Homo sapiens: one gene and its partners. The protein of the gene in region 3 purifies or fractionates together with the protein of the main gene of each other region. This does not show direct contact. Each region holds a gene or a part of one and is shown on either strand. Other genes may lie near its edges.

Evidence for each region.
Region 1: the proteins of GPHA2 (region 3) and PCSK5 purify together in Homo sapiens (affinity purification with mass spectrometry; 3 studies listed by BioGRID and IntAct, with this or other methods). This does not show direct contact.
Region 2: the proteins of GPHA2 (region 3) and FRAS1 purify together in Homo sapiens (affinity purification with mass spectrometry; 3 studies listed by BioGRID and IntAct, with this or other methods). This does not show direct contact.

What each region holds. Positions count from the first base shown.
Region 1 is NC_000009.12:75,893,621-75,897,368, forward strand, and holds part of PCSK5 (proprotein convertase subtilisin/kexin type 5 isoform 3 precursor), read left to right. Parts: intron 1-3,748. UniProt on the Homo sapiens protein: Serine endoprotease that processes various proproteins by cleavage at paired basic amino acids, recognizing the RXXX[KR]R consensus motif. Likely functions in the constitutive and regulated secretory pathways.
Region 2 is NC_000004.12:78,055,100-78,058,847, reverse strand, and holds the start of FRAS1 (extracellular matrix organizing protein FRAS1 isoform 1 precursor), read right to left. Parts: upstream 1,526-3,748; 5' UTR 839-1,525; coding exon 763-838; intron 1-762. UniProt on the Homo sapiens protein: Involved in extracellular matrix organization. Required for the regulation of epidermal-basement membrane adhesion responsible for proper organogenesis during embryonic development. Involved in brain organization and function.
Region 3 is NC_000011.10:64,934,310-64,938,057, forward strand, and holds GPHA2 (glycoprotein hormone alpha-2 precursor), read right to left. Parts: upstream 1,585-3,748; 5' UTR 1,525-1,584; intron 1,152-1,524; coding exon 1,049-1,151; intron 867-1,048; coding exon 682-866; intron 566-681; coding exon 464-565; 3' UTR 162-463; downstream 1-161. UniProt on the Homo sapiens protein: Functions as a heterodimeric glycoprotein hormone with GPHB5 able to bind and activate the thyroid-stimulating hormone receptor (TSHR), leading to increased cAMP production. Plays a central role in controlling thyroid cell metabolism.

The DNA of each region.
Region 1 (3,748 bases), on a different chromosome or scaffold from region 3:
TGAACAAGCAAACATTGCAATGTCCTGCAACCTCTGCTTGACTATTTACAAAAGGCCTTATAGTGAAGATTCATGGCTTCTCATTAAAAATAATAATGCTAAGAAAGTTTACATACAAATAACACCAAGGATGATTTATTGTGGTTTTACAGCGCCAATGAGGAAATTTAGTGCTTATAGAGGTTACAGAGGACCCCTTGAACCAGTGTAAAAAGATCAGCTATTCTACAGTGGAGAGCATTTCCTCTGTAGATCAAAGGAGCTTAAGCCTATGCTAAGTCTTTGGGGTGGTAAATGGAGTTCACACGTGCAATATCATTGCACTGTACAGGCCAAATGTATTTCTTATTCATCCTTTACTGCTCTGACCTTTCAACACTTTAGACATCCTTTTGTTATTCTTTCCATCAGTAAACCAGCTGTGGATCAGCTGAGGGCAGTAACTAATTTGCAGATGCGTCTGGAATGTTCTGTTTTTTACCCATTTGGGCTTGGGGTCTCATCTTACGTGTTGCAAATTGGAACTGAAACTTGTTATTATTTCTGCAGTCATTTACTATCCTGGTAGTATTTTTTATATCTTCGGTATGATATTCTAGGTGAGTAAGGTAGTAAATTTTCACCACAGTAAAGGTATAGTTTTGACCATTTGCTCAGAATATCAATGTAATGTTTTGTGTAGCATCTTAGCATTTGAAAGTCACGAGAGGTAAGATTTCTGGCCAGGGCATTTCTATGGAAAATAATAGCTGTGCCTCTTCTGTTAAAAAAAAGATGGGATGTGCAGAGTAACACAAGAAGAAAGCAAACAAACAAGCAAAAAGGACGTGCTTGATTTCCAGAAGGGAACATAAATGAAGGTTTTCTTGCCTTTGTTCATAGAGCTAGCATATGTTTTCACAAAATGTTTATATTTTGTGAATGGTTGTGCCTTGAAATCCTGCAATAATAATACTTAACCATAATCATTGTTAGTTGTTGTCATGTTAGCATATATTATCTTTTGGTTGGTATCGGAGTCAGCTGCAGAATGCCCTGCTTTTCTTCCCTACAAGTTCTGACTACCAGCCCTCTTAGTATCTAGTGGAACCAGCACCTTCTGAGCTGGCCGAGGGTAGGAGGTGTGCATGCCTATTGACCTGCACGGGAATAGAGGGAGAAGCCTTTGTCCTCCCTCACTAATCATGTGCTCTGACCCTTTGAGCTAACAATCTACTGGTTAGGCAATTGAAATGATATAAAGGAATAAGACCTGACATGTTGTTAATTGTGGACCTCCATTTAGAGTAAATCTACAAAGAAGAATTAATGTCTGGTTATTTGAATTCAGGGAGAAGATCCCTTGTGAACAAACAGATTGTTTACAATGTGCAATAGCTGTATTTATCCTTCTGTGAGTTGCTTATAATCCTTGATTCCAGCCTGAGATTACCAGTAGCAAAGCCCCTTCCCCAAACCACATAACAATTTGAATAACACCTCTGAAGGATAAAACTAAATGCAAGCCATACTGGAAAAATATTTTACCTAGAGCCCCCCCATTGACAGCATGTGGACTTGGAAACTCTGGAGAGGCCACTTTCGAGGCTGTGAAAGCAGGAAAGTCACTGAACTTAATGGAGCCTCTGTTCCTTCATCTGTAAAATGATAAATCTCTAGATAATAGAGTGAGTTAACTATGCATTGCTCAGCACATAGTTAGGCTTGCAGCGAAAGGTTTGTTTAATCTGAATCTGAGGAGAAAGGTCAAAATAATTGAGATCCAAAGTTTTAGATAAGGAGAAAGGAAGACATTTTAAAAATGGAGATGCGAAATGTGAAGATCAGGAAAATATATTTTTGAAGATTGAATTGTAAGAACCATATCATAGCTTTGTAGGCAGGGAAAATGATTTTCCCTTTCAGTGAGTAATTTAAAATATTAATAGTTTAAAAATAGTTTTATGTTAGATTCTAAACAATTAGGATTGATTTCCCATGGCAGGGCCCTCTTCCCTCATTCATCCTAGTCATAGGCCATGAAATGTTACAGGATAAGCATACTGCGGATGGACAAAAGGGAGGAAAAATAACCTGAAAAATTTTGTTAAATCATATTCGCATTTACATTTTATTTTTTATTCTGAGTGTAGTTTGTATGAGTAAAGCTAGAAGAAGCATTTTCCAAGTAGGTAGGAAGAGATACATTCGCAGGGAGAACTTTGTTCAGAGATGTCCTGAACACCTCCCACCCTGCTGATTAATTTTGAGCTGTGGATATTATAGGACGCTTGAAATGTTGATTCACATGGGCAGTGAATTCTGGGTGCTTATGGATAGTCCTGGAAATAGGGGATGTGGTTAGTCTGATGGGTTGTATGGGAGTGGATTGTGCTTGCCTAATAAATTCTTAGGCATTTTATAAACAGGAGAGTTAGTTGGTGCTGTAGTCCCAGATTGGTCTCTGTGTGATATATCTGGCTTTGCACAGGGCAACTCTTCATGCTCAAGATCCTCAGCCCTGACCCCTGCTAGCCACTCTCATATGCATATTTCTTATGATGAGGCAAATGAAGGGATAGTAGGGGAACCTTTGCTGGAAAAAACAATTCAGAGTGCATGGTCTGGTGATGGCGTGTCTGCTGCATTAACCTCATAGATAAGGAATGGTTTGTATGTGGTCATTGGGGATTTCGGGGTCTATTTGAAGTGAAAAACTGCATTTTTGTGAGCCTAAAGGCAGCTGACTTTGCCTTATCACTGTCTTTCATGGGCTTACATCCAGAGGTCCTAACCTTAAAGGTCAGCCAGAGAAACAGGGTAGTACAGTGAGAAAATTTTCAGCAATGTCTGACTCTTTGGCTGAGAGAGGGAGTCCTGACCCAGAAATATCCCCTGGGCAGGGAGGGATATTTTTGTTGTCGGTTCAAGTTATGTGAAGCAGTGTCTGGTTTTTACCAAGGCTGAAGTATCTCCAGGCATTGCTCTGCATTGGGACTTTTTTATTCATTTAATTCAGGTTGTGATCAATGACAGAAAAGCTGACTTTAGCTTCCTGGCTGGTAAAAATAAATGCTTATAGACATTAATGCATGCTAGAATACACACACACACACATATATACACATATACTTATATATGATATATACACAGATATGTATGTGTGTAATATATGTACATATGCACAGCATATATATGTCAATTTTTATTTTTACCAGAATAAAGTTTGCACATAGTTTAGAGTAAAATTACTCATGAGTGTTCTCACTAGTTTCAACAGATTATCCATCTCTACATCAAAGGGTACCAAGGAGGAACAATCAATACCAATAAACTCTCCAATTTGAGTTCATCCTGAGAGTAAAATTAGATCGGAAAGAAAACAAGACTAAGAGTCAGGTTTGAGTGAAATTCCAGGGTCTTTACTTTTATCAACCAACCTGACCCTCAGTTCCTCATTTTTCAGATAGGGAGCCATAATACCTACTCCATCCACCTCATAGAGTTGCTGTGAAAATCAGGTGACCTAATAGTGAAGATGAGTGTGTATTAGCTAAAATAAGGCATAGGGAGCATTATATGATCTTTAAAGACACCTAAGAGATGCACAGGCACTCAGAAGAGAATAACAACATACAGTAATTTTCCAGATTCTTGTGATTGTCCCTGGGGATATAATGGGGGCTGAAAGGAAGAGGAATAAGTGTTGTGCCTGATTCTCCCATAGGATGATGTGATAGCTACACTTTTCCCCCAAGAGCCATGGAGA
Region 2 (3,748 bases), on a different chromosome or scaffold from region 3:
TTTATTTGGCTGAGCCCGGATTGCATTTGATATCATGGCGACAACTAGTCTCACGGCTTCCTTTTCTCTCCTGCGGCTCCGGGGTTTTACAGGTAGCTTGGAGCCTCGGAGGAAAACCAGGAGGCGGAGGGTGAAGTAAAAGAATGAACCTAAACTCTTATTAACCACTTTTGTTCTGGGAAGCAGGCTGGTTCGTGCTTCTCCGTACTGGAGAGATTTCTTTCAGTGCAACTGAACTGCCCACGACCAGAACACGCTCCAACCAGTTAGTTATAAAATCCTAACTGGACTTTAGGGGGAGACTAACTGAGGTAAGGAGGGCGGGAGAGCGATGGGGCTTTAAGATGAAAGACTGTATGTTTCTTAGGAACAGAAGTATTTTTAAACAGGTAAGAGCAATTGTTCGCTCCTCACCTGTGCTCCATGCAGTTGCTTTCCCTTCGGGGAAAGGTAGGTGGTGGAAAGAAAAAGGATCAGTTTCAGAGATGTCACCTCCATCGGCCACCCACCCACCCAAAAGCACTTAGGGCAGAGAGGGAGGCCGTTTCGGGGGTGTAATCCGAATACAAAACAATCAGGAGTAGGAATCTTATCAGAAAAAGCCTATTCCAGTTTCACTTCCACCTCACCCTTCCCAGAAAAACTTCCACCTCACCGAAATACCATAAAACCTGCTGAGATTTTTAAACTGCACGATCACTCACACATACACACACACACGCACACGCACACACACACACACACGCGGCACCGCTCTCTCACCTTCGGAATGATGAGGCAATACTGCAAATTCCGCCAACGCTAGGGCCAGCCCGAGCCACACTTTGAGGACACCCATCGCCGCCTCGGCACCCACGATGGAGGAGCCCAGCCTTCAGCATCCAAGAAGCGGCTCCGCCAAAACGCTGGCTCCGGCGCTTGGAACCCGGGCGCACTGAAGGTGGGGGACCGCGGGCCTTTACCTCCGGGAAAAAGAGATGGACGGGCGGAGAGCGACACTCATCAGCCCGGAGGCGCCGGAGCGGGCTGGGGTTCAATTCACTCGCTGCTCAGGCAGAGAGCGCGCCGAGTTCCCCCGCAAGGCAGGACGCCAACGTGAGCTTTGGGAGAATAAGAGGAGGCAGAGCACAGTTCTCCGCGTCAAAATCTCGCCGGAAAGTTGCTGGTCACTGGCCGATGGGATCTTCCAGCATTTCCCTCGGGCTAGACCCTTCCGATCCCGGGTCCCCGACAGTGGAAATCCTGGCTCTGGTTTGTCCGAAGCAGCTTTTTAAAGTTCGCTTGGCACCATACGTCGGCGTTGCGTCGGCACCGCGGGTCGCCGGGAGCCCCGAAAGACCCACCCACACCCACTCCTTGGTCGAGCCACCCGGCTCGGCAGACCTCATCTGCCGGGGTCCGCTCGCTGGAAACTGTGCAGCGCTGAGGGCAGCTCCGGGGACTCGCCCGCCCTGCAGCCGCACCGCACCACACCGCCTCAGGCTGCGCTCCCTGAAGCAGACTGTTCGGAAGCTTCAGAGGAAAGACTGGGGGGCGCTGCTGCTACTTTCTCGTCCCCGCCCCTCGCCTGGGTGAGGAGGGCTGCGGGGACGCGGCTTGCTGCACACCAACACCCACCTCCGCGCTGAACACCCCGGAGGAGGTCTGCAGGGTAGAGGTGCAATGATTACGGGAGTGGAAGAAGAGCCATAATTTTAATTGCACGGAGGAAAAAGCTAGCGAGGCTGGAAAAGACCCCCAAACTCAAGGCCACTCTGGCGAGAGAGCCTGGAAACGCCCAAAATACGCCGGGTCTGGACCCCGTGTTTAAAGGACACACGTTCAGCCTTCCTCTAGTCTCCCTTGCCTCCTTCCTCTCTGCTTTGCTCGGTGTGAAAATGGACCCAGAGACTCGGAGCTTTGGCGAAATTCCAGAGAGTCACGTGGGGAAAGGGAGAAGCGAGGAGGGAGGTGAGGGGAGGCCGGGAGAGCAACCTGATCCCTTTATTCATTCTGCTGGAGTTCAGATTGGCTTTGTCTGGGGAGGAATCAAAAGTGCTCATACCGGGGACGGAGGGGGTGGAGATAGGTTGCACAGTTCTTGCTCAGGCACACCGGAAGGCAGATGAACCGTGTCCACATCCCTTGTTAGGGGAGGAACCGATTCGGCGGGCTGGGGGAGCGTGTGCCCACATCAAAGGCCCTGGGGCTACCTCCCACCCCCACAGCCCGCCACTCCTGCTGAACTAAGTGCGTCCGGGGGACCTGATTGATCCTTCTTCCTCGCTCTGGGACCCTCAGGCTGTTGCATCCTGGCTTTTACCAGCAGCCCGGGAAGATCTTGGTGTGTGTGTCCTAGGCGGAGCCTGAGAGCAAATGCACCTTTCCCTTTCCCTAGGAGACTCTGTCAGTGGAACACAACGCGGTCTGGGAGCTGTGGGTCCAGCTGCGCCCCCAGATGCCAATGGCTGGGAAAGTAACATCAGGACACGGCCGACTGGGGCGCGCACTTGAAGAGCAGAGGCCTTGATTCCCCGCCAGGACTGACTGACGGCAGCTATTTTTATAGGACCGAATAAAAATAGCTGGTCCACGTTTAATCGTTTTATAAGGGAACAGTTGCATCAGAGAGATGCTGACTGGGTTCTGATTGGCCCAGAGAAGAAACGTCTCGGGTCCCTCAATTGAGTCGGGATGGGCGAAACTGTTGGAGGGGAAGCAGTTGCATGAGCTGTGCTGGCGGGGGTCCCACTTGTTTCCAGTCTTCACGAACACCATGACGCGGGCCCACGTTCTAACGTGCACTGACGCCACTTGGAACAATTCACTTTTCCGAATAACTGGAATAACTTGAAACTGGCAGGTCCCTGTCAGTGTTACTATTCAGCCAGAACAAAGGAGAACCTCTGACAACCTGGCTCTGAATCTTAAGTATTTGGAGGACCCAGGGTTTGCACATTTCGCCCTCAGTCTCTCTGTTGGGCTGTGGTCATTCTAGGGACAGAGGTTGTATCATCTTTGTATAATTGAAGCACATAGTAGGTGCTCTTTAAACATTTGTTGAAATAATGGATTAAGTGCCTGAGAGCAGCGGCCATATCAAGGGGAGCTGCGGGCCTTAACCTCCTCCCAAAAAAAGACCCCTCCCTTTTTATTTAGAAAGTAGGGCCTGTGCGGTGGCTCACGCCTGTAATCCCAGCACTTTGGGAGGCCAAGGCAGGCAGATCACGACGTCAGGAGTTCGAGACCAGCCTGGCCAACATGGTGAAACCCCATTTCCACTAAAAATACAAAAATTAGCCACGTGTGGTGGCACATGCCTTTAATCCCAGGTACTCTGAAGGCTGAGGCACGAGAATCACTTGAACCCGGGAGGCAGAGGTTGCAGTGAGCAGAGATCTCACCACTGCACTCCAGCCTGGGTGACACAGCGAGACTCTGTCTCAAAAATAAAGGTCGGGCGGGGCGGGGGGGTGGAGGACATCTTCTCAATCCATGTAAAGTGATGTGCAAATTCAAACTCAGCTTCCAACACACTCTGACAACCAGACGGTCACCCTTAAACCCCCTCCTAATTTTGCAGCTGCTACTGAATGGGAGTAACTTAAACCGTTTGTTCTCTCAAAAATCAACAATTTGATTTTATTTTAAAAATCAAGCTGGGTGCAGTGGGGTGCACCTGTAGTCTCAGCTACTCCAGAGGCTGAGGCGGGAGGATCACTTGAGCTTGGAAGTTGGAGGCCATGGTCCACCCTGATTACGCCTATAA
Region 3 (3,748 bases):
TCGCTGTGTACTTCCTTGTCCCCTTTTTATTTATTGGGCAGGGGGAGGGGGAGGGCACAGGCAAGAAGAGATTCACAGTGTCCTGGGGTAAGGGGGGGTTCACAGTAATCATGGTCTACTCCTCTTTCCGTGGCTGGGGGTAGACTTAATAAAGAGAGAAATTCAAGAACTGCTTGCTTTATTTAGGGGTAAGGGCAAAGAGGGAAGTAAAATGATGAAAGATTGGTTTAGAAGGGCCAGGCAGAGGCAGGGAAGAAGCAGAAACTCCCCTCTTCTCAGGTGACAGTCACAAAATCTTACAAAGGATCAAAGCTGGAACAACCCTCCCCTTATTTAAAAAAATTCCATAGCAAGTAACCATCAGGGCTGGAGCTCCTTCCAGTTTTTGAATCTTGAACACAGGTTTCCCCCACCAGAACGTCAAGCCCTGTGACCCAGGGGAGGAAGGAGGGGAGAGGATGGGCTAGTAGCGAGAGAGGCGACACATGTCACACTGGCAGGCCCTGGCCGTGAAGATCTCGAGCTCCTCCCTCCGGCTCCCCACACACTGCAGCTGTACTTTGACCTGCGGGAGAGGGGAGTCCGTGCTGCAGTCCCCTTTCTCAGGGCTGTCTAGGATCTCCATCTCTCTGGTCTTCCCGCGACCCCAGCGTCCATCCACCGGGCCCGGGCCCTCCTCACCTTCTTCAGGCCACTGATGGTGCAGCACTGAGAGACGGAGGTGATGTTGTGTCGGTAACCACTGGCCACCAGCACAGAGTACCGAGAAGGGAAGGCGCTGGACTCACAGTGGCCCACACAGGCCTGTGCCACGTGGGAGCCCTGGCAGGTGCCTTGGCGGTCACTTCGCACTGTCACATTGAAGGCTAGAAGGAGATAGGCAAGCAGTAGACGGCGCCTCTGCCAAGGTTTGCCTCGCCCCAGCTCCCGTTGCCTGTGCCTCAGTGTGGGGCCCTTTAGGGTGCTGCCTGCCCCACCGTCCACTCAGCTCTTTGCTCCCACCCAGAACCTCCACTGCTCCTAGCCCTCCGGTCCCAGAGGTACTCACGGTGCAAGTGGCAGCCTGGGATGACTGCCTCCTGGCCCCAGGCTTCAGTGACTGCCAGGACCAGCAGATAGAGGACCAGGGTTTGAGGGGACGCCATAGGCATCTGAAACACAGTGGGGAGATGTCTCTACGTGGGTGTGCAGGTGGGATGGCGAGTTCTTTAAATACTGCATTCCAGGTGAGTGAGCCAGGGCTGGCTGGTCTGACAGGTGAGGTGTGCCTGAATGGTGCTGCCTTTTCCCTGTATCTGCCTTTGTGTGTGTGTGTGTGTGTGTATGGGTGTGAGTGTGAGCAGCTGTCTCTGGAAAGGACCTGTGTGTCAGCCCTCTGTGCAGTGATTCTCCCTTCCCTGGAATTTTCTTCGCCATCTGGAGCGCAAACATCTTCCTCCCTCCATCTGCCCCATCTTGGCCTGCAGGGCCCTCGTCCACATTCCCAGACCCTCCCCAGAGCTCCTCCTGCCTCAGCGAGCTCACCACTTCCGAGGCCCAGGAACAGAGCGGCTTGCAGTTTTCCTGTGCCTCCTGCTGGTCTCCAGCTTGGTGCTGGCTCTCCAGGCTTTTATTTGCCAGCATTTTGGAGCCACGCCCTCTTGGAGATCGGCTTTCAAACCAGCCTCCCCTGCCTGAAGCCTCAGAGCGATCCCACCTGGGGGATCTTGCTCTTTGAGGTGCGGTCCTCGGAGAGCAGCTCCTGCTGCTTTCTGCTTCTTTCTGTCCAAAAAGCTACCCACAGCCCAGGCCTCGATAAGTCAGATGTGGAGAGAAGCCTAGGAGCTGGTGGAGTGTGCAGCGTGTGTGCAGCTGACGACACAGGGGTCAAGACTCTTGGCTGAGTTGTGGACACCTGGGTTCTCTTTGCTCTGTGACCTTGGACAGAACATTTCCCTGTTCAGGGCCTGATCACCCCTAACTTTATTATTATTTATTACTATTATTTTGAGAGGGTCTGGCTCTGTCACCTAGGCTGGAGTGTGGTGGTGTTATCTCGGCTCACTGCAACCTCCACCTCCCAGCCTCCCAGACTCAAGCCATCCTCCCCCTTAGCCTCCTGAGTAGCTGGGACCACAGGCACACCACTATGACCAGCTAACTTTTGTATTTTTTTGTAGAGACAGGATTTTGCCATGTTGCCCATGGTGGTCTTGAACTGCTAAGCTCAAGTGATCCGCCTGCTTAGGCCTCCCAAAGTGCTAGAATTACAGGCATGAGACACTGTGCCTGGCCACACCCCTAATTTTAAAACCACTAAACTCAGTCCTGCTTGCCTTTTTCTAACTGCAAAGGAAAGGGATTGGGGAAGGAGATTCTTAGGGACAAGGGAAATTATACCAGTGGAGGTCTCCTGAGATGTGCTTGGTGGCAGGGCCGGGGGTTTGGGGGTTGCTGTCTGTTTCAGAGTTGCATGGCCACGGTATCAGTGGATGATTCGCATCCTGTGCTACAGAGTAACGTTCTGAGCTGGAGTGCTCCCCTAGCCCTGGAATAACAGGGACCTGACTCCTGAAAGGGCCTGAAGTTATCAACCCCAGCAAAGCTGATCTATTTGTCCAACTCTGGTTTTATAGATGAGGCAACTAAGGCTCAAAGAAAGAAAGTTACTAAAAGTCACCCAGCTAGTTAATGTTAGGGCTGATTTCAAATTCAAATCTGCTGTCCATCCATGGTGCTAAACTACACTTGAGCAAGAATGTGGCAAGCTGGAGAAAGACCCCCAGGCAGCAGTGGCCAGAGGGGTTGGGGCAAGGTGGAGAGCCAAAGGAAGCCTGTGGTGATTCTGGGCAGCCCCGCTTTGGGGTCATTGCCTCACTGATCTGCTCAGAAAGAGCAGGGCCAGTCACAGACTGCTAGAGCTAGAAGGCACTTTATAACTCACCAAATCCTACCCCCTCATTTTCTGGATGAGAAAATAAGAGCTCAGCGGAAAACAACTTCCCAAAGCTTCACTGTAAGCTAGTCAGAGTCAGGGCGGGCACTCACAGCTCCAGATTTGGAGCTGTGCTTCTTAGCAGCTTTGTAAAACAGGCCATGTTTGGGACAGTCGAGTAAAGGCTGTAAACGCAATTTGAGAGGAAGTGATGTTACTAATGTCACTAATCCTTAAATTCCCACACCCTACGGTTTCCCCATCAGCCCCCATCCCCTCAAGACCTGGGTCCTTGTTTGCCAGGTCCTCCGCAGCAGTCCACCTCTTCTCTTCTCCCCACCAAGGGTGCAGGCAGCATAGCAACAGGACGCAGCGGGAACTCAGCAGTTCAGCCCCTGCTCTCCCACTCTTGAGGGGCACCCTCTGGCATGTGACAGATGATGGCTTCTGTTTAAAGCATTTGGGTGACAAGGCTCATTACCTTATGAGGTAGCCCATTCTAATATTGGACATCTCTAACAGGTAAAAAGTGACTCCTTTGTTGTGAGCTAAAATGAGTTTCCCTACATTTCCATAGATCATTTTGGTTCTCCACGGCCACATGAGGCTAAAGTGTCTATTACAGATCAGTCCTTTAGTTGAAGGCAGCTCAGGTGGCCAGGCCTTCTCCAGGGGTGCCAACCTGGATTGACTTCCAGTTAATCTGATAAACGAATCTGCATTACTGTCAAACAGTTAAAGGGATAGAGAGGTGGGAAACATTTTGTCTATGGAGAGGCAACCATTTGGGGCCAAACTGGAACTGGGGAAGAGGTCTCTTGGGTGAGCAGGGCT